Regions from separate parts of the Homo sapiens genome. Here region 2 is linked to region 1. A link means that fine-mapping ties the variant in region 1 to the plasma level of a protein whose gene starts in the linked region. Region 1 holds a variant in brackets. A gene starts in the other region. All regions are shown on their reverse strands.

Evidence for each region. PIP is the chance, under the fine-mapping model, that this variant and not a neighbour inherited with it causes the effect. Protein levels are from antibody-based Olink assays in UK Biobank. Linkage for the fine-mapping came from a reference panel and not from the study's own genotypes, which makes the PIPs less certain.
Region 2: CDH17 starts here. The variant in region 1 is fine-mapped to the plasma level of the CDH17 protein (UK Biobank, PIP above 0.99).

What each region holds. Positions count from the first base shown.
Region 1 is chr7:100,880,502-100,889,722 of GRCh38, reverse strand. SRRT (serrate, RNA effector molecule) reads right to left here. Exons shown (of 20, transcript NM_015908.6): 3 at 8,310-8,438; 4 at 7,918-8,064; 5 at 7,482-7,670; 6 at 5,484-5,653; 7 at 5,171-5,355; 8 at 4,885-4,983; 9 at 4,683-4,800; 10 at 4,353-4,510; 11 at 3,961-4,022; 12 at 3,782-3,860; 13 at 3,288-3,476; 14 at 2,755-2,928; 15 at 2,523-2,676; 16 at 2,210-2,403; 4 more. The coding sequence ends at 1,174. UFSP1 (UFM1 specific peptidase 1) reads left to right here and starts at 8. Exons shown (of 1, transcript NM_001430944.2): 1 at 8-1,002. The coding sequence starts at 224. The coding sequence ends at 880. RefSeq lists enhancers at 3,186-3,919, 7,943-8,780. The variant C/T (reference allele first, on the strand shown) is at 4,624.
Region 2 is chr8:94,198,813-94,215,740 of GRCh38, reverse strand. It overlaps CDH17 (cadherin 17), which reads left to right and starts at 7,186. Exons shown (of 18, transcript NM_004063.4): 1 at 7,186-7,258. It also overlaps the pseudogene RPL6P23. RefSeq lists an enhancer at 8,460-9,659.

The sequences.
Region 1 (9,221 bases):
GCGGAGCATTGTGGGAGCTCCTCGGTCGGTGCCGGTCGGTGGCTGCCTATTGCGGCCTGCGGTGATCAACGAGGCCCGGGGAGCGCGTCCCCAGTCTGCGCGCCGGTCCTGCGGCAGCTGGCCCAAGACCCGGAGCCGAAAGGAAGTGTTGGAGCCTGAGGTCGCTCCGCGCCGCTAGGAGGACGCTGTGCCTGGCCTGGGACCTCCGCTCCCGCCCACCGCCCTGGAGCCGCTGAGGGACGTCCACGTGGGCCTGTCCCCGCCGAGCCGCGGCCCTGTCCGCCTGGCGCTGCTCTCGGGCCACTACCTCTACTACCACTACGGCTGCGACGGCCTGGACGACCGCGGCTGGGGCTGCGGCTACCGCACTCTGCAGACGCTGTGCTCGTGGCCAGAGGGCCAGCCCGCGGGCGTACCTGGACTGGCCGCCGTACAGGCGGCCCTGGAGGACATGGGCGACAAGCCCCCCGGCTTCCGGGGCTCCCGGGACTGGATCGGCTGCGTGGAGGCCAGCCTCTGCCTCGCTCACTTCGGAGGGCCCCAGGGACGCCTCTGCCACGTACCCCGGGGAGTGGGGCTGCACGGGGAGCTGGAGAGGCTTTACTCGCACTTCGCAGGGGGTGGGGGCCCAGTCATGGTTGGGGGGGACGCAGATGCCAGGTCCAAGGCCTTGCTGGGAGTCTGCGTAGGGTCAGGCACGGAAGCCTATGTCCTGGTATTGGACCCTCACTACTGGGGCACTCCAAAAAGCCCCAGTGAACTACAGGCTGCTGGGTGGGTGGGCTGGCAAGAGGTGAGTGCAGCCTTTGACCCCAACTCCTTCTACAACCTGTGCTTGACCAGCCTTAGCTCCCAACAGCAGCAGCGCACCTTGGACTGAGGACGAAGTTACAGAACTGAGATTCTCGGGTCCCAGACACGCACCTATGTACCTCCCACTGGTGTCCCTGCAAAGCCTGGCGCTTTTGACATCAATAATAAAAGTGGCAGGGCTGAGCAACACCTCAGGAGTTACTCTGGAAGGATGGAGGAGTTATGTAACACACGAGAGTCAGGAGCCCTGTGGAAGTGCTTTTATTAGCAGTAAGGCTGATCGTACAAAAAATTCTCAGAGCTTCATAGGACAAGGTAGTACAAGTATGGATGATACAGGACTGAGGAACGGGGGACGGCTCAAAAGAAATCAACATCGTCTGGGGCATCCAGGTCCCGATATTCCACAATGGCCCTTGGGTCTCCACGAACCATCCTGTGAGGTGAGAGGTACAGGATGAGAGCTGAGGGCTCCCAAAAGGGAGTCTGCAGGCGGCAACAAAGCTTGGGCGTCTGCCCTCCTCACCTGTTGCGAGGTTTCCCAGGATAACCTCCCTGGCCTCGGAAGGCATCATAGTTCCCTCGACCAGCACCATACGGGGCATGGGGGTATGGAGGGCCTCCTGTGGGGACTGCAGGGCGGACAGCACCAGCTATGACAGAGATCAGTGTTGAGTTGCAAAACTATGTCCTCAATTCCATCCTCTGTTTTCTTCTCCCAAAGCCACACACTCACCAAGCCCCTTCATCTCCCTCCTGTACTTACCTCCATAGCCCAAGATCGGGGGCCGGGGCTGACCATAGGGCATCAGGCCCTGGGGAGTCTGGTGTGGGTAGGGGAGTCCTGGGGTCAAACCTGGGGGGAGTACAACACGGACAGGGACATGAATTACTGCGGGGGCGGGGAGGGGGATACGGGTACAATTGACTTCTAGGGCTATGGCCTGAGGATGGGGCAGAAACTTCTCGGGGTGACACGTTAAAGAGAAACAGGAGTCCCTGGGTAGTCAAGGAAGAGGGCACATGCGACCTTCATGGATCGTATCTTACTCTGGGCGGGGCCAGGTGGCTGGGCTGGCTTGATCTCAGGCAGAGCTGGGCGCTTAGCATCAGTGAGGAAGTTGTTAAAAAACGCGACTTCCTTTTTCACTTCCTCAATTTTCTCTGCATGCTTGTTGAAGATATGTTTGCGCACAAACTCAGGACCCTGGGTGGAGAGAGGAGAGGGGTCAGGACAGCCACATAAGGGTTGCCTCGCTCCCAGGCCCGAGCTGGAAGGATTCCCAGCTCCCGCCTGCCAGTGCAGTAAGCAGTTCCCCCACCCCTGCCCAGGGGGCTTCCTGTCTCAACCCCACCTCCCACCACCGTAGCACGGCCATTCTCCAACATCCCACACCTTGAATTTCTTGCCACTGAGAGGACACAGCCACTTATCCTTGCCCAGTTCCTGCGTGTTGGAGGTGACGAACTTCTCCACTTCCTGCTCTGGGTCTTTGCGCCCCATCTTCTGGGCCTCTTCCTCTGAGAGTGACTCCCGCACACTCAGCAACGGCGTGAGCTTCTCCTCAAAAGTCTTCTGCCACTCCAGCACTGTGGTTTGGGAACAGAGGAAGGAAGGTTGGCAAGGGAGCCAGAAGGAAGGATGGTGGCAAGGGGCTGGAGGACCAAGGCCAGGGGCAGCCGGGAACAAAGGGGAACCTGGAGCTCACCTTCCCCGTGACTGATGCGGTTGGGTGGCATGGGCCCCCGAACGTGGATGATCCCACAGCGATTGGGCATCTCGTCCTCGTTGGGGTACTCACAGGTGTTGTAATAATCCAAGGAATGCACGATGCGCAGGTAAAGGAGGAGCTTGTCCAAGACCTAAGGGAAGTGAATGCGAGCGTTCAGCTCCTGCCCTCACCGCCCGAGCCCCCACGTGCCCCGCGCTGCCACTGGCACCTTAATCAACTTCTCATCCCGCTCCACGTTGATCTCTGCCGGGTTCCCTTCCTTAGGAGGCTCCTCAGGAGGAGCGCCCCCGCTGCTCCCCAGCAGCTCCTCCTCCTCGGCGCTTACTTCCTCGATCAGGTAGTCGGTGATATTCTTCAAGATCGGGTTTTGCGAGGGCAGGCTCTGATGGGAGGAAGAGAAGCAAGTAAGGCAGAGAAGACCTTCAGAGGAGGTAACCTGAGACTTTCCACAAGTGAAAGAGCAGCGAGGGGACAGGAGTTCACCGGACATAAATGGCACCTTTTGCCCCCTTGAGATTTGTCTTTATTTTAGCTTTTGTTCCACCCCAGCCACAAATGATCACTAGCATCCCCCCAGTTCTGCTGGAATCTGGAGGTGCTGCTACCCACACACGAAGGGGCAAATGAGTGAGCAGGCGAGTGGGTGCAAGGGTTCAAGGCTACAGATAGGTAAGGTCAGAGGTGCCCACAGCAGAGGCACTACCAGTTGCTTCTGACAAAGTCCTTTGGGGAGTCACTGACCGTGGGCAGGGGAGGCGTCCCTGGTTCTGAGGCCCAAAGCTGTGTCCTGTCATCCAGCGTGTGGATCAGCTTGGCCGCCAGCTTGATGTCGTTGCGCACAATCTGCTTGTGCTGGGTGATGCCGTTGATGTTGCGAACGCGCCGGGTCAGGTCCCTGTTCACACCAGGGCTCAGCTCACACTCCCGGAGCTGGAGGGCAGACATCATCAGCAGCTTACCCCACTTACCCCGCTTGCCAGAGAAACAGCAGCTCTAAGACCCTTCCCTCTTGAGCACCAGCGATTGATCAGACTGCGAGCTCCCTGGGGACGGGGACCACATAGGTTCCGTCCATGCTAACGCCCTAGAGCCTTGCCCAGAGACAACGTAGCCAGACAAAACGGTCAAAGAGTGTGCAGAACAACCAAACTATCAGATGAACAAAGTCACACAGAGGTCCCGTGTGGCACAGAGTCTCCCTTCCTCTTCCCCACAGTCCCACCCCCAGCACTCACACGGATGTTCTGCAGGTTCCAACAGATCTCTTTAATGTTAACACTGCGGTCGAAGGTCACCCAGCCACGACGGAAAAACCTACACAAGAAAGAAAATGTTAGCATAGTCAAGCGAGGGAGTTGGTGTTGGCCATTAACGTTCCCCTGCACTTTTCCCTCCAACGCACCGAGTTACTCACCTCCTCTCTGGCTGGGGCTCTGAGAGCGCCACCCGCATAAAGCCTGGGTACCTTTTACAAAGCTGCAAGAAGCAGAAAAGCAGCCCCACAGTGACTCAAGGATTCATTCGCTTCTTCCTCCAATCCCCCACTGCCCTCAGAACCCTAGGGACTAACTGCCTTATCACTCTTCCCATCCTTGGGCAGGGAAAAACCACTAAAGGGCTTCAGAACACCAGCACCTGAAAGCCAATGGCGCTATCAGGACTAGTCCTCGGAGGCCATGGAACCTGGGGAAGGGGCCTCCCTAGCAGGTGAAACGGGGGCATCTGTCACAGGCAGGGCCCCACTGCCTTCCCTCTACCCTCCACTTCTCCATCAGCCCTGCCCTGACTCCACGGGTCCCCACTCACGGAGATGATCTCGGCCCGGGAGATGTTGGGCGCGATGTTGCGCATGAAGAGGGAGCAGGTCTTATGCAGCGGCCGCGGCTTGCACTCCAGCCCCGCGGCGTCCTTGGGCTTCTCCCATTCTTCTTCCTTGGGCTTCTCCTTCTCCTTGAGCGCTTCTTCTAGGCAGGAAGGGGGGTAGGAAGGAGTTGGTGCATTTTTATTACTGATTGTGGTGGGGAGGATACAGAAGCTTTCCCCTAAAAGCCACCCACCCTCCCGTCAATGTCGCCAA[C/T]CTCTCACCTCCCCACCCGCATTAGGAGAACGCACTTTAAAGCAGAAAAGAAACCCTACCGGCCTCCTCCTTCTCCTCCTCAGCCTGGCCGCTCTCTGACTCCGACTCAGACTCTGACACGCTGCCCTCGTCAAAGCTGTCGTCACCACTGTGCTTCCGGTTCCGCTTCTTGCTACTCTGTGTGAGCCACAGCAGAGGGGACAAGTCAGCGTGCCAGAACCCCAGCCCCAACACTCTGACCCCAGGCCACAGACACCTCACCTTTTTGGCTTCCTTCTCGGAGTCTTCTTTCTTCTCTTCCTTGTCCCCATCACCCTCCGACTTCTTTGTTTTGTCATCATTAGAACTGTCATTCTCAGCCTATGGTAAGAGACAACCACTGGGGATGTCAAACCTCCCCTCCCACCTTTATCAGAGGGCCCCCACCCCCACAGCTGAGGCCACAGGTTCATTTTCCCCAGCCCCCTACTTCTAGCTCCTATGGACCCCTACCCGCCCCCCTCCCCCAGGCTGCCAGGGACAACACTAGGAGACCCAGGGCTCGGACCTGCTTGCCGTCTTCCTTCTTCTCATCCTTGTCGTTGGTTTTGCGCTCCCCGTCCCCTAGGCCTGCTCCAGCCCGTCCTTCTTCTTTCTTGCTGGGCTCCCCAGGCTTTCCTGCCTGCTCCTCCTCCTCCTCCTGCTCCAGGATGCGAAGATCATTCTCCGTGCCTCCTTCCATCTTAATCACGGCTACCAACAAAGGGAACAGAGGTCATGACCCCAGGGCCCTGGCTCCTGTCAACCGGCTTCTACCTGATCCCCAGACACCCCCACCCCCATGGGGCCCAGATGCCTGCCACCCCTCCAAATCCGCACACCTGCATCCAGCATCTTGACAATGGCATCAGCTTTGTCTATGTCCAGGAGAAGGTTATCAAACCAGCCAGTCTCCATGAGGGACAGGAAGACCCTCAGTCGGTTTTGCAGGGCCCCCCGGGCCTCCTGCCGACGCTTCCCCACCTCATCTGGGTGGTACTTAGACCGAAACCTGGGAACGAAGCGGGGGAGGGAAAGACAAAACAGTTATTGGAAGCCAAGGCCAGGATGTGGGAAGGGGCCCAGGAAAGACAGGGCATATCCCCCTTCCTCTCACAACCACAAAAGGTCATCAAAATAGAGAGATTAAGGGATAGGGGTGCGCTAGAACCACCCAACACCCCAAAAGGAACCAGAAGTTGTGTTCTGTGAAGATTTGGGGGAGAACCAGGAACTAAGAGCTCTGGATTTGGGAAGACCAATGACTACAGGGGGACGCCAGGGTAGGAGAGGCAGATTTACCACTTTAAATCTCTGGGAAACACTAACGTAGTAAAAAGGTGTCATTTCCCAAAGCTTCAGAGAGGAAGGCTCAGGAAATAGCAGGCCCTGAAGAACCTCCCTCTCCTCACCAACCCCAAACTGCAGTCATTCAAAAACTGCTCCCGCCAACTCCCTCCACCCCGAGGTGGAAGACAGAGGGCCAGATAGCAAAAGCCCAGAGGCAGGGCACCTTTCTCCACCCGTGGGAAGATAAGCAAGACGGTGAAGGGACAGGAAAGACCGAAGGGAGACACTGGAGTGCCCTTTAGAGCCTCAGGTCCTGCCCACAGGGGGAGAGAGAGGAGAGGGCTGGAAGGTTAGGGAGAAGAAAAATAAAACATTTCAAATAGGACCTCAGAGGGAAAACAGAAGAAATGAGGAGTATGAGGAAAAGGGGAAAGGGAGGAAAGGGGAGAGTGTGAGAAAGTCCCAGAAACCGAAAACAAAGGGAAAAACTAAAGATCAGAGAGAGAAACTAAAAAAACCAACAGGGAAGAAGGTGGTGTTAGGCAGGGAGCAAGAACAGAAACAGAGAAGAATGAAGGTGCTGAGAGATTAGGACAAAGACACAGAGCAATTCGAGAGAGGGGACAGCGAAGACAGAACAGAACCACGAGTGGGGCAGAAGAGGAAAGGAAAGCCGCAGGCATCACCTCCAGGATCTTTACCTTGGCCGCTTGGTCAAACAGAGCTCAAGATTTAACTAGCGGCGCCCAGGGCCCATGCTGGCTGGTGGGCCACCGGCTGGCTCCTGGCTGGGCGCCCGGCCGAGATGCCCACGCGGGACTCCGCAGTGGGGCCTGACTGGCTAGCTGCCTGAGCAATCACATTCAGCTAAACCGCTGCATTGTGCACAGCAGTGCCCTGGCCTGTCTGCCTGGCCGGGGCCGCGCAGCTCAGCCCAGGGGCTCATGTATGGGCTGGGTATGGTGGGGGTGGAGGTGGGTTTGCTCCGAGCTCCGTCGATGAGCGGGTGTAGTTCCCAGTTCTGGCTCTTTTCAAGGAGGAGGAGCAGAAAGAGGATGAGGAGGAGGAGGAGCAGGAAGGGGGGAAAAGATGGTTGATTAAAATTAAAACATCCACAAAAGGAAAAAAAAATTAAAATTCTTTTTCTGTCAAACGACCGAGATCTTTGCTTTTCTTGTCTGGATTCACTCGTCGCTTTAGGAGGACGCCACAGCCACACAGGGTCCTGGTGATCAGGGATGACAATGACCCAACACCAACAAGTGGGAAGCAGTCTGTCTGCTGCCCCAAGGGGCCAAGTGGCTCTGGCCTGCTGCCTGGAGGTGTCCCACTCTCTGAGGACAGCAGGACAGGAGACAGGGCGGGGCGGGGGCCGTGGCAGTTGCTGAAGTGAGGGGGAGACCCCATCAGCCAATGCTGTCATACTTCCCGACCCCCGCCCCCAGAAAGTTCTGGACAGGGAAAACTGGGAAGAGGACAGGGCTGTGGCTCCACCAGCGGGGCCAGGGGGACATGCCAGGGCAGAGGTCCAGGGAAGTAGGGGCACTCACCACTCCTCATCTTTGTGCGCCAGGAAGAAATCCTGCATCTGTTGCCTCCGGAAATCCAGCTTGTAGTCATTATAGCGCTTGACGGCCTCCGTCTCATCCACCGAGTCATCCAGGGAGAGGAGAAACTCCTTGAAGGTCTTCATCACGGGCGGCGGCACACCCAGGTCAATCTCTGCAATGCTGCCCAGCCTGGAGGGGACCCCGGTCAGGAAGGCTTGGTTTTTGGGGAACGGTGGGAGGCTACAGGGGCCAAAGTAGCTGGGGCCCCTTTACTTTGTCCACCATGGACATCACCCCAAACCCCAACAGCTACCACCCCTACCCCAGGGACATGCCTCTGTGTGCCTGACCCGCTCCCTGGCTTCAGCCATGGCCTTCAGCAACCCCATCCATCCCCCAGGCCTACCAACCCTCTTCTGAGAAGCCCCACCCTTACCTGGCCTGGATAGGCAGGACATGGTGCTGCATGATGTGGACGTCAGGGTGGCCCCAGGGCTGAGGGGGGCCATAAGTTGGGCCCCCACCCCCCCCAGCATAGGGCATCTCATAGCCACTGTGGTATGGGTCAGAGCTGTGCTCATCCCTGAAGGTGGGGGACACAAAAGTAAAGCAGAGAAGGGAGTCACCTCCCCAGAGCATGGAGGATGGACAGACGGGGGTACACACAGCATGGTCTCCCAGACAAGGGTTTCAAGGGACAAAGTAACGATGGGTGATGGGAAGTTGAGAAAAGGAAATGACAAAGATTTAGGCACAGGTGAGGGGAGAAAGGGGAGGCCCAGGTGGAACTGAGGCAAAGGGGAGGAGAGGGAAACCGCTCCATCTCACCAGTCTCTCCTCATGCGCTTCTGTGGCGGGCTGAGTTCGTGGCGAGGTGGCGAGAAGCGCTCTCGCCGATTCCGGTCATAGTCCCGATATTCACCCCGACTACGGCGCTCACGGCCACGGTCCCACTCTCTGGCAGTAAGAACAAGTAACAAAGATTAAAGGCCAGGCACAGTGGCTCATGCCTGTAATCCAAGCACTTTTGAGGCCGAGGCAGAGAACACTTGAGGCCAGGAGTTCGAGACCAACCTGGGCAATAGTGAGACCCCCCCCCGCCCCCCGCCATCCCTACAAAAAATTTTTTATTTTTTAAAAAGGTAACAATAATTAAAGATACAGCTGGATATGCCACAGCCACATTCCTAAACAGGCCCTTCTTACACCCTGAGATACCAGACTAAAAAGCCTACAATTATAAAACTTCGCTCCTAACAGAAAAAGATTTTTCTCTAGTCAGGGCAAGCCACTGCACTCCAGCCCTGGCAACAGAGACCCTGTCTCAAAACAAAACAAAACAAAGATTCTTGTCTAACTCCATGAGTTCAGCCAATACCCAAGAACTGATGGTTCTCCAACTCTTCTCCCAGCCTGGCCTTCCGCCTGTGCTCCAGACCCACATGAATCACCCCTGCTACAGGCCCACTTACGGGCAGGTCGCGGCTGCAGCAAGCTTCGACTGCACCAGTGCACTCAGCCCGGGTGACAGAGGGAGACCCTGTCTCTAAAAATAAAACAGAAAACTTTTTAAAAATCATCCCCTACTAGAAGTCCATCACCCCCTCAAATTCAGCCTGTCAGAATCAAGCCTATTCAGCCGGGTGCGGTGGCTCACGCCTGTAATCCCAGCACTCTGGGAGGCCGAGGCGGGCGGATCACGAGGTCAGGAGATCGAGACCATCCTGGCTAACATGGTGA
Region 2 (16,928 bases), not on the chromosome of region 1:
TTTATGTCAGTTCAATTTCATTATTTTGCAGTGAATATGCATTAGTTGCAGGGAATACTTTTTTTAAGAACAGCTTTATTGAGATATAATTGACATATCATACAGCTTACCAACTTAAAGTGCACAATTCAGTAGTTTTTAGTGTATTCTCAGAGTTGTGCAACCACCACCACAATAAAACTTAGAAAATGTTCATCACTTTCAAAAGCAGCCCCATGTCTTTTAGCTCTCAGCTCTAAATTCCCCCTCTGCCCCCCAACTGCAGGCAACTCCGAAATCTTCTTTCTCTGTCTATGGACTTGCCTATTCCAGACATTTCATGTGAGTGGATTATATAATATTAGGCTTTTTTTGTCTGACTTTTTTCACTAAGCATAATGTTTTCAAGGTTTAGTCTTGTAGTATCAGTATTTCATATCTTTTTATATGAATATTCTATTATATGGATAGACAAATATTCTATCATATGGATACCACATTTTATCCATCAGTTGATGAATATTTGGGTTGTTTCTATCTCTTGGCTATTATGAATAATGCTGCTATGAATATTTGTGTACAAGTTTTTGTGTGATGTTTTTATTTCTCTTGGCTATATACCTAGGAGTGAAATTGCTAAGTCAAATGGTAACTCTATATTTAAGTTTTTGTTAAAACTCCCAGACTGTTTACCAAAGTGGTTGTGTTATTTTACATTCCCACCAGAAGCATATGAGGATTCTAATTTCTCCACATCATCTTCAACACTGGGTATTATCTCTTTTTTATTATAGCTGTCCTGGTGGGTATGAAACACCCTGGTGGGTATGAAATGCCATCTTATTGTGGTTTTGATTTGCATTTTGCTTATGCCTAAGGATGAGCATCTTTTCATGTGCTTTTTAGCTATTTGTATATCTTTTAAAAAATTTCTATTCAGATCCTTTATTTTTTGATTGGGTTGCTGTAAGAGTTGTTTATATCTTCTAGATACAGTTCATTTGTCAGATACGCGACTTACAAATATTTTCTTTCCTTCTATGAATTGTCTTTCACTTTCTTAACGGTGTTTTTTGAATCACAAAAGTTCTTAATTTTGATTAAGTCCAGTCCAATTTGTTTTTTTTTCTATTGTTATTTGTGCTTTTGGTGTCATAGCTAAGACATCATTTCCTAATCCAAGGCCATAAAGATTTACCCCTGCTTTCTTCTTAGAATTTTATAGTTTCAGCCCTTATAATTTATGTCTTTGATATATTTTAATTTTTCTGAATGGTGTGAGGTCAGGGTCCAGTTTCATTGTTTTGCATGTGAAGATCAATTTCACAATTTACTAAAAAGAGTATTCTTTCCCAGGAAATACTTCTCTTAAGGGCAGAATTTCCAGAGGCAATCCTGTTTTGGTGTCTAATGAGAGACCCACAGGCACAGAAGGGGGACCATTTAATAAGCCTTAGTGTCCAAGTCTGAGTCCTTCCAAGCAAAGCTCACATGCATGCTGGTCTCCTACTTGACCCCATGACAGTACTTCCTAGGCAGTCACTGCACACTGTCTGGCTAAGTGGTGATGACCACCAGGGCTAACATGAAGGGGTAGTGTTCTAGGAGGCGTATGTTTTGGAGAATTAAAACAGTACAGTTCACTATGGCTGTGTGGAGTTTGTTGTGCACATGGGACACCTTGGCGAAGTTGTGGAATAGTCAGTTGGATATAGAAAACCAGAGCTTTGACCAGAGGAGAGATCTGGTCTAGAGAGAGACTCGAGATGTTGGCAAGTAGATGGGAGCAGAGTTGACCTCCACAGAGTGAGTGACAGGACAGGATAACCTGGGATTGGGCCCAAGGAGTTGGATGAGTCACAAGTAGGACTGCAAGGGACTAGCTCAAGAGGTGGAAGGAAAATCAGAGTATTGGCAAGGAAGCCGGGGTAAAGGGAAATTTGAGGAGAGCTCGCCATGGTGTTGAAAGTTGTGAGAGGTCAGGTGAGGTGCAGACTGAAAAGCGTCCATCTGATTATCATGAGGAGGTTGTTGGCAACCTCGGTGAGGGTGGTTTCAGTGGAGCAGTGAAGATGGAAGCCAGACACTGTGATCTGAGCATGAGCTGGATGGGAGCAAAAGCTTGTTAGGTGAAATCTGATAAGAGACAGAGATAGGTCTCAGAAAACCAATAAGAATGATGGTCATTTCTTGGAATTTAAAGAAAATCCAAGATCAAATAAAAAGCTTAGCTGTCTGAGAAAAAAATGTCTGAGGGAAGATGAGCATGCTCATGTCTACCAGATCCAGCTTGCATGTTCAACATCAGACCGACTGCATCATTATCTCAGACATTCCTGCAGAAATGGGTTCTACATGGTGGGGTAATTAATCTCAATTCAGAATAGGCTTTGCTGAAGAATATTTACTGGAGGATAAAGCAATGATTCCTTAAGCTAGTGTTTCTCAGAAGGGCCTATGTAATCACCTGCATCAGAAATCCAGAGTGCCAGCCAGGCATGGTGGCTCACATCTGTAATACCAGCACTTTGGGAGACCGAGGCAGGAGAATCACTTGAGCTCAGGAGTTCAAGAGCAGCCTGAGCAACATAGAACCTATCTCTACAAAAAATTTTAAAATTAGCTGGTGTGGTGGCACTTGCCTGTAGTCCTAGCTACTTTGGAGGCTGAGGCAGGAGGATTACTTACGCCCAGGAAGTCGAGGCTGCAGTGAGCCATGATTACATGCTGCAGTCTAGCTTGGGCAACAGAGCAAGGGACCCAGGGACATACCCTGAACCAGGATTTCATAGTGTAAGCCCCAGTTTTAGTGAACTTCAGTTTGGAAAGACCTGGAAGGCATTTGTCCAATGTACAACTGATGATGTGAATACTTACTAGCCATCCCATTCATGAGATTCTCCAGCCACTTCATGGCATGCGTAGCTGGAGCCAGATTGAGGGCCCCGCCTGCTGGGCAGTTGCTTGGAGCCAGCATCTATAGATGAAGTTAAAAATCTTCCTGGAATAAACAAAGTACAAAGTGGGTCCACTTCTGTCAGAGTAGATAGTGGGGAAGAAAATCTTTACTAACCTCAAACTATCTTCCTTAAATATTTTTCAGAATATCGCAAGGTGGCTGTCAGCTAAGATTTTTAAACAGCATTATGTATGATTCAGTGTTTCTTACTTAGAACTAGTGATTCATTTTGTTATCTAAGTTTTAAATCTTGTGATAATTCTCTCAAGTGTTCTGGTTTGGAAAACTGCCAAAAAAAAAAAACTCAACAACAGAGAAGCCTCCAAACAAAAACCCCAAACCCAAACTCAGAAGTAAGTATAGGCCAGGCGCAGTGCCTTACACTTGTATTCCCAGCATTTTAAGAGGCTGAGGTGGGCAGATCTTAGACCCCAGGAGTTGGAGTCCAGCCTGGATGGATGAAACCCCATCTCTACAAAAAAAATGGGATATGGTGGTGTGTGCCTGTAGTCCCAGCTACTTGGGAGGCTTAGGTGGGAGGATGGCTTGAGCCTGAAGGGCCAAGGCTGCGGTGAGCCGAGATCGCACCACTGCACTCCAGCCTGTCAGCCTGTGACAGAGCGAGACCCTGTCTCCAAAAAAGTAAGAGCTACATGGAAGTAAGACCTGTTTTGCTTAAATTTATCAGAAAATGGACTCTGTCCTGGCCAGCAAAAGTAGTTAAGAAAGATTCTGCTTCAGCCTAAAACAATGACTAGCAGAAAATTAGTTTCACTTCATTCCACTAAATAAATGTGGAACAAAAACTGTGAACTCTAGGTTTCAGGGGGTTCAAAATTATTTGCTTTTCTGGGTTCCTATTGGCCTTGGTTGAGCCTGCAGGTAATCATGACTATTTAGAATTATTGAATTAAATAACTGAATGGAGTTGAGTCCTAAGAAGTACTTATTGAGTACTAATTGAAGACAAAGTTTCTGCCATCATCAAGTTAACAGAGCAAGACAGATATTAAGTAATTAAAATATTATTTTACACTTCTGTTAGGTGAGGGTTGTGTGTTGATGGACTCATGATAAAATATTCTGAATGTGTAGTATGTAACACATAAAGAACATAAAATGCAAGTACTTGAAAAATTGAGAAATTTACCACTCATAGATTTCATTTTGAGTTTTAAAGAATAAAAATAGGCCAGGAGCAGTGGCTCATGCCTGTAATCCCAGCACTTTGGGAGGCCAAGGCAGGCAGATCACCTGAGGTCAGGAGCTCAAGACCAGACTGGCCAACATGGTTAAACCCCGTCTCTACTAAAAATATAAAAAATTAGCCGGGTGTGGTGGTGGGCACCTGTAATCCCAGCTACATGGGAGGCTGAGGCAGGAGAATCACTTGAAACTGGGAGGCGGAGGTTGCAGTGAGCTGAGATTGTGCCATTGCACTCCAGCCTTGGGGACATCAAGACTCCATCTCAAAAAATAAATAAAATAAAATAAAAAAGAATATAAATATTAGAAATGTAACATGCTTTGACTTTTAGGAATAATTCCAAGTTTTCATAACTTTTTTGTCTGGGAGGCTATCTAGACTTTCTTACAAATGTCCATAAATTAATTACTTATTTATGGACATTTGTATTTTCTAGGGATAATATTGGAGGAATGCTTAAAACATTATAGACAAAAGCGTTGAAATGTTTTCACCACCATGAAGCTGTGAGTTGAAAGCATTAGCCCAAGTCCTTTCACTTGTTCAGTTTTGTTTTCTTTTTTTTTTTTTTTTTTGAGATGCAGTCTTGCTCTGTCGGCTAGGCTGGAGTGCAGTGGTGCAATCTCGGCTCAATGCAACCTCCACCTCCCAGGTTCAAATGATTCTCCTGAGTCAGCCTCCTGAGTAGCTGGGATTACAGGCACCTGCCACCACACCTGGCTAATTTTTGCATTTTTAGTAGAGATGAGGTTTCACCATGTTGGACAGGCTGGTCTCAAACTCCTGACCTCAGGTAATCTGCCTGCCTCAGCCTCCCAAAGTGCTGGGATTACAGGTGTGAGCCACTGCGCCTGGCCTTCAGTTGTTTTCATCCTATAAATCATACCTCCTTTGCTTTGGAAAATTAAATCAGTAATATTTATCAATTACATTTTCCTTATTCCTATTATTAGCAAGTCTATTGAACCAGCAATGTCTCACTTTTCATGAAAATGAGTTCCTAAAATGCAGTGGTGGCTACCTGAAACGTGCACATTCTTAACATTTGGATTTAATCTGGAAGGATGTCTAAACCATGTAAGGAATATATGAACAGCTCTCAGAATCTTGTTAACCTGGTATCCCACAGTACAGAAATAGCTTCTGTAATTCAGAAATGCAATAATCACCTGTTAATTTCTCTGATGGGTGGTTTAGGCATTTTCAGTGTTTAATTAACCTAATTCTTTGAGCTGGAAGCTGGGGGCTAGAGATAGCAAGTGATGTACAGAGGAACCCCATTTCGGAACTTGGCCATCTTCCAACAGGAATGGGCTCATGCAGGGATTTCTGCCCTTGGACTTTTTTTTTTTTTTTTTTTTTTTTTTTTACTCGCATAAAGCTGGAAGGAAAAAAATCTGGCAGAGTCTATAGCTGTAGTGAATAGGATGGGATTTGAATCAGAACAGGGTTGCAGTCCCGATTCTGTAGTCAAAGGCTGTGTGACTTAGACAAGAAATAAAACCTCTCTGTGTCCCCATTTTCTGTCTATAAACTGGAATCTACTTTGCAGACATGCTAAATGAGAAAACAGAATTTTAATTGATATACCAACATGTCACGATCATTGTTATTGTTGCTGAAAAACAATGACTATAAATGATACATATGCACTTTATTTTTGAAAAAAAAAAACTCATAAATTTAAAAGCACTTTATTATTTTAAAATTTTCAAAGAAGACCCAAACTTCTTTATGAACAATGCTGTGTGATGAGATGCTTGCCCTTGATTCCAGGAACTGAAACATGTGGCAAGTGGAAGCGATTTGATTTTGTAGAACAAGCACACTTTATTCAGCTAATGGGAGGGCAGAGGTGTGAAGAATGTGAGAAGTGCTTAGCCTCAATAACCTCATTCTTCTAAATGAGTGATGCTGGCTGTGGGACAAAGCAAGAAGGGCCTTTGCTGAACCCACCAGTCCACCAAGGATGTTAACAGCTGGCATGCAACTAGATGGTTTCACTTGCAGGGTCCTCAGGATAAATGAGGTCTATTCCCACAGTGGCTTAGAGCACTCATGAAACCTTCTCATGAAATCTGGAAAGGAGGGAGCCCTTCTAGAGAGTGGGCTGGGCTCTCTTGCTTTCCCTCTGTCAGATGCACACCTGGAGAGGAATGGAAAACACAACCTCAGCTCAGGAGAAGCCAAGAAATGAACATGAGAAGGTCCACAGAAACAGGGCCAAGTGTAACACACCAGACACAGACATGACATTGATGCTCACCTTCAGTGTGGATTCCCAGAGTGACCAAAGTGTGGAAATCAGGAATTGGTCTAAAAGAAGCCTTGACTTGAGAAATCTGGGGGCATTGGCTTTTATTGGTTAATCAAAAACCTCATTTTGATTGGGGAAAAATAAGTTGTTCCTAGGTAAATCCATTCCCTGAATTGTGGGGGGGAAAAAAGGACTTGGTTTGTGTTTGGGGGAAATTTGCTATCGGTTGTTTCTTGCAGACTTTGGAAGGGACCCTTGGATTTCAAAAGCAGGCACAGCCATATTGTGTCTTTCCTCATGTCTTCTGAGTCATTTATGATATCTCATGTGGCTGGTTATCAATGAACTGTGTCATTGCTCAGACATGGCGCCCCTGCTCCGTCTTTTGTGTTTGAGATGGAATCTACATAAATATTTGCTGATCAAGTCTCCTGTGCTAAGTGTTGGGGGTACAAAATATGGAAAGTCTTTGATGTCATGAACCTCACACTCTAGAGATAGTTGGATACACAAAAACTTTTCCACTCTAACTTCTTGTCTTTTCATTGACTCATCTACATTGAAAAATGTAGCAACCTGTTTTGAGATGGATTAGATGTAAGTTAAACTTCTTTTGATACAAAGTCATTTCTTTCCTGGAGTAAAAGTAATGACACTTTTTATGATACCCAGTGGCTCTCGAAGAGCAATAAAAAATGTTAATGGTTAATGTTTGACTGAAGCTGAAGGGAGAGGCTGGGAGGCAAAGCAGGGAAGAGGGAGTGTTCCCGGGGGAGATACTCCAGTCGTAGCAAGAGTCTCGACCACTGAATGGAAGAAAAGGACTTTTAACCACCATTTTGTGACTTACAGAAAGGTAAGGGCTGACATGTCTTAACTGTGTCAGTAACGTATTTATTCCAGAAGGACAAAGTAGATGGAGGGGGAGGGCACTTAAAAAGTTGCTTGACAAATTTGTTCCTTGAGGTGGGCTATGCAGATGCGGAGAAGGGAAATTTGTTGCTGGCATGACAAGTTTTGCTTATGGAGCACAATTTTTTTTTGTAGTTTCTTTTCATTGGTCCATATTTTATAAATTCATTTGATGAAGTGGCTGCAGTGAAATCAAGCTTGGCAGTGGAATTAAAGGGGAAATTGAGTTCTCTGATGTTTAAACAAGTATCACATCCATTCTTTGTGATGAGTATATAAAAGTCCCTGGTCTTAAGATGCTCTAGGGCTCTTGTATTCTAGAAATTGGGGTTGGAATCACATTCTCAAAAAGCATGTCATTCTATCTACTTCTCAGAGAATGAGATTCAATTTGGGATTCTTAGAATTGTCTAGGACACAGCAAGGGAGGGAACATGCAGAGAAGAAGAAAAGTCTTTTTGTAAAAGTACTAGAATAAGAATTGAAGACAGACAGACCTGCCTTCACAAGTGAGAGAAGAGGCTGATGTGCGTGTTAATCAGCTTCCTGGGCTGCTTTTGGCCTTGGTGGTGGAGTTACCACCTGCTAATGTGTGGTTATTTTTATGTTAAGCCACACACAGCTTATTGGTATCTTCAATGGTCCGATATTTGCCTCTGTCTTGGTCTTTTATGACAGGTGACTTTATAGGGACAGATGCCCTCTGTGGTAGGGGATGCCAAGCAGCAGATTGGAAGGACAGTGCCTTCTCTAATATTTTCTTGTCTTTATTTTTCTTCAAAAGCTTAAATAGCAAATGAGGCATTATTTGAAAGAAGAAGAAAAAACACATGTTTAGATGAAAGGAAGATGAATGCTATTCAGCTCTCACCAGGAAACAAAGCGAGTCCTTTACTGAGAGAGGGTTTCTAGTGAGTTACGGGGCCATATGAGTCTTCAGGGTTGGCCAAATGGGTTAGGCCAGTTTCATCATTTTCCAACCTGTGGGCACAGAACAGAGAGCTGCCACTAGAGACTTGCCTAACTAGGTAGTTGTGAGAAGTAAATTAGATAAGTAGGTAAAGAGCTTACTATGTTGCTTGGTGCATGGTACACATCCAGTGAATGTTAGCGCTCTGTTCCATGAGAAAGTTCAAGTAGGTGACTCAGGATGAATTGAGAAATTTTTGTTTCATTCTTTAGAAAAATAAGAAAAAAATCAGTGATGCCATAAAAATAGCATCTACCATTATGCAAGAGAGGAACTAATTCTATGTTCAGGAAGTAGGATTCAAAAATATGAGAATAATAAAACTATTGGTTTTGCTATATATATAGCATTTTAAAGCCCCTCTCATGGTTCCCATATAAGTCTTTGGGTGAGGTGCAGGTGGGGCATCCTTTGAAACTCACCCAGATGACCCCTGAAAAAAGTCATCACTGTTCAAGGTGAAGGTTACATTTCCGGTACCTCCTCCTTTCTCATACAAAAGGCAAAATATGGCTGGGTGTGGTGGGTCATTCCTGTAATTCCAGTACTTTGAGAAGCTGAGGAGGGAGAACCGCTTGTGCTGGAGTTCAAGACCAGCCTGGAAGGTCTGAACATAGGGAGATCCAGACTGTACAAGAAAATTAAAAATTAGCCAGGCATGATGGCACTTACCTATAGTCCTAGCGACTTGGGAGGCTGAGGTGAGAGGATTCCTTAAGCCCAGGAGGTTGAGGCTGCAGTGAGTCATGATTGTGCCACTGCATTCCAGCCTGGGTGACAGAGTGAGAACCTGTCTCAAAAAAAAAAAAAAAAAAAATCTGGATGATGTGCAAAATATATCCTGGCAGAAACTCTACTTCTCGTTCCATTGTCAAAAAAAATGTCTAGAAGGATGTGTCCCTCATTTTTCTTCCACATTAACAGCAACAGCTCTGAGGAGGAAAGCTGGGCATTGTCATGCTCCTTGCTCTGGAGGCCGACAAACAGTGCTTGAACAGAAGCTGGTTCACATGGGTAGAGATGTATAGATTTGACATAAAATTGCATTGATTCAGAAATCTCTGGTATCAGATTTAGAATGGGGCTAGTTGTTCTGTAACTGCTCGTTGATTATCCAAAGAAAGACACACGGAATTTTAAGGGAATACCTATCTACTTATTTGTTACTTGTAAGAACAGACAGGAAGAAGAAGGAATGTTTACTTAGGTACAAGAAATATTAACTTAATAAAAGCAGATATTCCCCTAGTGGCTGAGGTATTAACTACACTAAAGTTGATTTTTTTTTTTCACTTAAGCAATACGTAACAAGCTAAGCTATGCTTGATTTTTGTGTATGTGGTACAAAGAAAATTTCTCTTCAAATATTCTGTAAGACTGACATGGAATTCTCTCATTCATGATATTTCTGAGTTATTCATTTTTGACCATATACTTATTACTTAAAAATATTAGGACTTGTTCTTAAGTGACGGATGAGGAGAATGGAAATGGTAGATTTGTTCCCTTAACATCTAAGCTAAAGATGAGTTCTCTTCCTCACCAAGAGGCCATCTAGCAGAGTGGCTTGGTGCTTGGCCCCTGCATTCACACCACTTCCTCAAGCGCTCTAAGCATCAGTTTCCTGCTCTGTGGGATAACAACAGGACCCACATTATATGATTGTGTTGTTCAAGTAAGTTGTCCAAAGTGTTTAACTTAGCTTGCATTTGTTGAGCATTTGCTATTTTTTAAAACAATTCCAATGATTAAAAAAAAAAACAATTCATGAATGAGATTTCATCGTGGTCTGGCACCTTTTATTAAGCAGAATTAAATTTATTTTCCCTTCCTCTCCTACCCATCCCAGTTGTCAGTTACGATTTAATTACAGAAATTGGAAAGTGAACCTGCCATACTTAAGCATGACTGCACATTCTTGGCATTAAAATTCCTGCCTTGGGTCACTTTGCAAATGAACTGGTATTAGAGTATTTTTCTTTCTCTTCTCTTCTCTTTTCTTTCTTTCTTTCGATCCTTCAGTGTCTAAATCCTATGGGATGGAACCTAATTTAGATTTACTTCCTACTGAATTTCTAAGGCCAGGATGTGTTGCTTTATTATCTTGACAAAATGCTCATCCGTAAACTTTATATTACATAAAGAAATGTTGTGTAATACATAAAGAAACACTTTGTCAAAAAAAAGTCAAGCCACCCTTTATGAGAAATAGTGATTCCAGTCCTCCTCTTTAGTCCAGGGAAGATGCTTGTGATATTGTTCTGCTAGATCTGGGGGAGAAAGGGTCTCCCCCTGCCACCTTCTAGGGTTTTTGCGGGTATATAGCTGCACACGTGAGGGAAGTCAATGCTGAAATTCTTCCTGGCTACCTGCTTAAAACCCATTTATGCCTAGTGTTCCATTATTGGAACACTAAGCATGTGGGAGTTATTTATATCCTTCTGCACAAGGTCATCGTCAAGGTCTGATTGCAAAAATTCAAAAAATTGCAACCTCAGGTATAAATGGGTTACAACATCAGGCAAGTGCCCTGGTGGGACAGTCACTGTTGTCCCTAGGTCAGTGGCTCCCTTTCCTGTGACTGCTCTGGCCCCCCTTCCATTCAATGCTGGGATGTTTTGGGAGACTTGGAGGAGAGGCCTCTTCTCCCCAGCTGATCCTTCCCTTGCTCTGTCTTGGGGAGCACTGGGGGAACAAACGCCAACCAGGAACAACATGACACCTCTCTCAAATATTTCTTGGAACTTGTTATTCTTTTCTTTAATAAGAATAATTATGCTAGTAATCCCATTACTGGGTATATACCCAAAGGATTATAAATCATTCTACTATAAAGACACATGTACACGTGTGTTTATTGCAGCACTATTTACAATAGCAAAGACTTGGAGCCAACCAAAATGCCCATCAATGATAGACTGGATTAAGAAAATGTGGCACATATACACCATGGAATACTATGCAGCCATAAAAAAGAATGATTTCATGTCCTTTTCAGGGACATGGATGAAGCTGGGAACCATCATTCTCAGCAAACTAACACAGGAACAGAAAACCAAACTCTGCATGTTCTCACTCATAAGGGGGAGTTAACAATGAGAACACATGACACAGGGGAACATCACACATCGGGGCCTGTCCTGGGGTGGGAGGCAAGCGGAGGGAGAGTATTAGGACAAATCCCTAATGCATGTGGGGCTAAAACCTAAATGACGGGTTGATGGGTGCAGCAAACCACCATGGCACGTCTATACCTATATAACAAACCTGCATGTTCTGCACATGTATCCCAGAACTTAAAGTAAAATTTTTAAAAAAAGAAAAAGTGAGACAAACATTTTTTAAAAAAAGAATAATTATGCTAGTAATGTGTATTATAATTGATTATATCAATCTAAACCATTTTAAGTTCTCCAGGGGACCATTTAGCCTCCCGTGAGCCCATCTTCCCTATCATGAACCTATTGGTAGAACAAATCATCACCTCTAATTTTGCATGTGTGTAAATCCAGATTTTCATATACTGAAAGATTGGCATATCTATATTACAGAGTTTAGTGACAGAAAGCTGGGCTTATGTTTATGTATGTATGTTCATCCCTCCCTCCCTCCTTTCCTTCCTTCTTCCCTGTCTTCCTCTCTGCTCTAAAAACAAATCATCCAGCTGCCCATTCCCTCCCCATGTGGAGTAATCTGTTTGAAGTGTGAGGCAGAAGCCCAGATTTATACCTGTCTGCTTGTTTCTAGCTTATTAATGGCCACTTTAATTGGGTCCTTAATTTGTCAAAAGTGCAAATTGGTCAGATGCTTCTGCGGTTCTCTAAACCTTGAGTGATGCAATTGGTGCCAGAGATCTGTGAGCCAGACCAAAAAGATGGGCGTGGCAGATCTGAACATTAATCGATGAAAAATGGTTTGGGCGAGATTTTCATCTGATCTTTATATCTATCTGGCCTTGCCTTATAATTTATGCCGCTCTTAGCAATATACAGTGAGGAGGAAAAATAAATGGCTCACAGGATATTTGGCACTGTTTGGTCCTGGTGGTGTTATGAATTCCAGTCACATCCCTTCCTGCCCACACTACCTTAGGATATTTGAAAACAAATTCTGTAGCTCTCTCCTTCTGCAACTTCTTTGTTCTTTGAAGCTTCATGGCTCAGCCTTAGTGCTAGGTGAATTATTTTAATTCAAAGCCCTTCATGCTTTTTAAAAAATAAATAAATAAGAGATGACTGACTCTAAGATTTGTCTATCACTTAGCTTTTTTCACGGGGGACAAAAATCAATGCTTATGTGTTGACTTGTAAATCTGGAGATCTGGGACGTAGAAACTCCTTGTCCTTACTCAAATAAATGGGTAAATGACAAGAGCGTCTAAACATCACCTTCCCATCTTGCAAGATGGTGGGTGAAAAAGTTGAGAAGCCGGATACTAAGGAGAAGAAACCTGAAGCTAACAAGGCTTTGCCAGTGGCAAGGTGAAAAGGGGAACCTCAGAGCTAAAAAGCCCAAGAAGGGGAAGCCCAAAATCCTGTCCTCATTGGAGGAATTGGCAGATATTCCTGATCTGCTATGTATTCCAGAAAGGCCATGTACGAGAGGAGGTACTTAGCTGCTAAACCCAAGATTGAAAAGAATCTCGCAACCGTTACAAACCCAGTTGAGGTGACAAGAATGGTGATGCCTGGCTATTTAAACTTCACAAAATGCCTTGATATTATCCAACAGAGATGTGCCTCAAAAGCTGTCCAGCCATCGCAAGAAACTCTGCAGTCAGCATGTGAGAAAACTTGGAGCCAGCACGGCCCTCGAGACCATTCTGCTCATCCTCCCTTGGTGCCACCAAGGCAGGAGGGTGGTTTTCCTGGAGCAGCTGGGCAGTAGCTTGTTACTTGTGGCTGGACCTCTGGTCTTCCATGGAGTTCCTCTGTGAAGGACACACCAGAAATTTGTCATCACCACCTCCATAAAAATTGATATCAGGACTGGGTGCAGTGGCTCACACCTATAATCCCAGCACTCTGGGAGGTCAAGGTGGGTGGATCACTTGAGGCCAGGAGTTCGAGACCAACCTGGCCAACATGGCGAAACCTCCGTCTCCATTAAAAATACAAAAATTAGCCGGGTATGGTGGCACACACCTGTAATCCCAGCTACTTGAGAGGCTGAGGCATGAGAATCACTTGAACCTGGGAGCTGGAGGTTGCAGTGAGCTGAGATGGCGTCATTGCACTCCAGCCTGGGCATCAGAGCAAGACTGTCTCAAAAAAAAAAAAAAAATCGATACCAGCAGTGTGAGAAACCCAAAACATCTTACCAATGCCTACTTTAAGAAGCAGTTGTGGAAGCCTAGTCAGTAGGAGGGTGAGATCTTTGACAGAAAAAGAGAAATGTAAGACTACAAAGCAGTGCAAGGCTGATCAGAAAACCATGGACTGGCAAATTTTACCAAAACTCAAAGCTATTCCTCAGCTCCAGGGCTACCTGCAATCTGTGTGTGCCCTGGTGAATGGAATTTATCCTCACAAATTGGTGTTCTAAATTTCTTAAGAAGAACCTAATTATGTAACTAAAAAAAAATAAATGAATGCCGTTAATCCCCTTGGGAGCTTGGAGCCTGGTGGGAGAATCAAGGAAGCCTTGGGTGGGCTGCTGGGATGCGGGGGGTCCCTAGGTGTCTAATGACTGAGCAGAGCCCCCTGTGAGGCCACCTCTGTCCTGGGACAGCAGCACAGGCTAAACAAAAGTTCCATGGGGTCTTCATTTGCTAGGGCTGCCTTAACAAAATACCACAGAACGGGAGGCTTAAACAGCAGATATTTACCATCTCAGTTCTGGTGACCAGAAGTCCAAAATCAAGAGGGCAGTAGGGTTGGTTCCTCCTGAGAGCTGTGAAGGAAGGATCTTCTGTGCACCTCTCTCCTTGGCTTGTAGATGGCTGTCTGTACATTCACACAGTGTTCTTTCTTTGTGGATGAGCCTGTCTCCAAATCTCTTCTTAGAAGGACATCAGTCATTGTGGATTAGAGCCCACTCTAACAACCTCATTTTAACTTCGTTACCTCTGTAAAGACTCCAAATAAAGTCACATTCTGAGGTGCTTGGAAGTTAGGACTCCAACATATGCTTTTTGAGGGGGAGGGAGACACAATTCTACCCATAGCATTTGGATTGATTTAAAAAAGGGAAGATTCCTAAGGTGAAGCACAGAAATGAGGAGAAATAGTGAGACACAGAGATACATTTGCAGTAGAAACAAAACTTCCCAGACCAAGGCAGCCTTTTCCTCCAGGCAGGTCGGGGCAGGTCATGTCAGCATCTGAAAAAAAGAGCAGCTGCAAAGTAGGGGGAAAAAACCTTTTCAACATTTTGGAAAGATCTGTAGTGGATTAAATGATACTTGGTGTCTCATCATCAGGATATTTGTGTTTCAGAGGGAGTGAAAATTAGCCTGGCATTGTGACCTTGGGCAAGTCTCTTAATTTCTGTGGTCTTCATCGTTTGATTTTTCATTTCATCTTTAAGAGGTATATTATAATAGCATCTGCTCCATAGAGTTGTTCTGAGAAATCAGCAAGATAGTTTTTCACCACCAAGTCTTATCGGTGCATGCAGCAAATTGTTTTCAGTCAATGTTTGCTGCCTTTGTCGTTATCCGGGCTGGATGCAGATCCAGGCCGCGGCGGGATTCCCATGTCTTCTGTTGTGTGGTAGATTAAAATGAGGCACTGTTCCTGCAGAGCAAGCCCAGCAGCCCTGGTTCCCGTCTGCAAGCAGGTGCCCTGGTCTACTGTTGAGCAAGTGGTGGTCATGGTGGTGCCCATTGGGTGAGGGGCAGCCACAGTTTGGGAACCGAGGCCTTCTTTTCAAAACTCCTTTTTTTGTAAAAAAAAAAAAAAAAAAAAAAAAAAAAAAACAAAAGATAATAATAATAACCCTCTGATCTATGTTGCAAAGGGTGTGCTTGGTCTCTCAAATAATTGCTGTAGTAACTGTCTGAATTTAGTCCTTGTATCTGAGGGAAATCCTGACAAACGGCAAAAATTCCACGCAGACGGTTGGCCAATTATTACAGGTAGTTCAGATAAAATGCCACAGAATCCTCTGGAAATCTATTTCAATTCTTTTCCAAGTAGTGTTTTTGAGGAAACCTAGGTGTCTGGCTTGGTGGTTTCGGGCAATTTCAGTGATGAAGGATGGCTTCCCATCAGCACCATTGCGACCCAGGGTACCCCACACTTGAATGGTATTGTGTCCATGGAAGGAGGAAGTGTAGGTGGGACCTGTTTGAGAGACCAAAGTCCTCTTTTGACATAATCCTAGCACTAGTGTAGTTTGCCTTGAATCATTCGGGTAAAGGCTTTGCCTTGCTGCCTCATTTGGCTGTGAGGATGTTCCTGTGTAGGCTGTTTTTAGAATATTTTCATTAGTGGGCCACCAAAAGTTGGGAATTGTGAAGAGAAATGTCCTGTTGGACAATGTTTACAGTTTTGACTAAGCAAACGTGAGTGGCAAAATGAATTTTTGGCCAACAGTATTCCAAATATTAACTCGCTGAATCTCTTAACTCTCGAAGGTAGGTATTATTATTATTATCCCTGCTTTATAGATGAGTAGATAGGGCCACGAGTCAGCCGGTGGAGGAGTTAAGACCCAAGCCAGCCAGTCTAACTCCTGGGTCTATGCTCCTAACAACCGCATGGTGTGGTAGATTTGTCTTCAAATAAATCATGGCACCCTACGTGTGGCAATGGAAAGCAGTGACTTCTACTTCCCACTGGAAACCCTCGGTGAGGGGCAGGCCTAAATGTAAATGACAAAATAAAGGATAAGTACATTTCTCCTTCTACTTCCTAGGTTCCATTGAAACATCCCAGACAGTGATCTCTCTGAGCATCTGACCAAAATAAGGCATTCCTTTTATTTTTATTTGCTTTTCTATCATTTAACTTGTGTTTTTCTGGAAGACTGAAGGTGTTAAAAAAAAAAAAATTAGTTCAAGAAGAGATGATCTAGTTCGACCAGTTCTGGGTTATTTACTGAGCAGAAATCTGTTAGTGTATTCAAAGGAGAAACAACTCTTTTCATCAACAATAAAAATGTATTACACAATAAAGCTTTGAATGTTGAATGAGTTTCCTTTAATATATCATGTTTATTGAAAGCTCTTACAGGTGAGAACAAATTAATAAGATATCCATGTTAGGTAATCATAAATGTTTTAGAATTTACCCAACATCTGATGATGGCTTGATATATGCAAGGGATAGTATGAAGAGACCTGATAAGTTAAAAATAAGGCCTCTGCCCTTAAGGATTTTATTTAATAGTGGCAGTAATGCTAACAGACAAATGATAAAAAAAAAAAAATATATATATATATATATATATATATATATATATATATATATATATCAATCAGAACTGGCTCTGAGAGGAAGAGACTGGCTGGAAATCAAGGAAGATTTCATGAAGGAAGTAGGGTTTAGGTCCTAGCTCCATGAAGATAGAACCTGTACCCCTTATTTTGGTACCCCAGTTCTTGGCACGGTATCTGGGACATACTAGAAGTGGTGTAGTTCATTGCTATTTAAATAATTAAGTTGAACTTAGATGGTAAGATGTGAGAAGCAGAAATGAG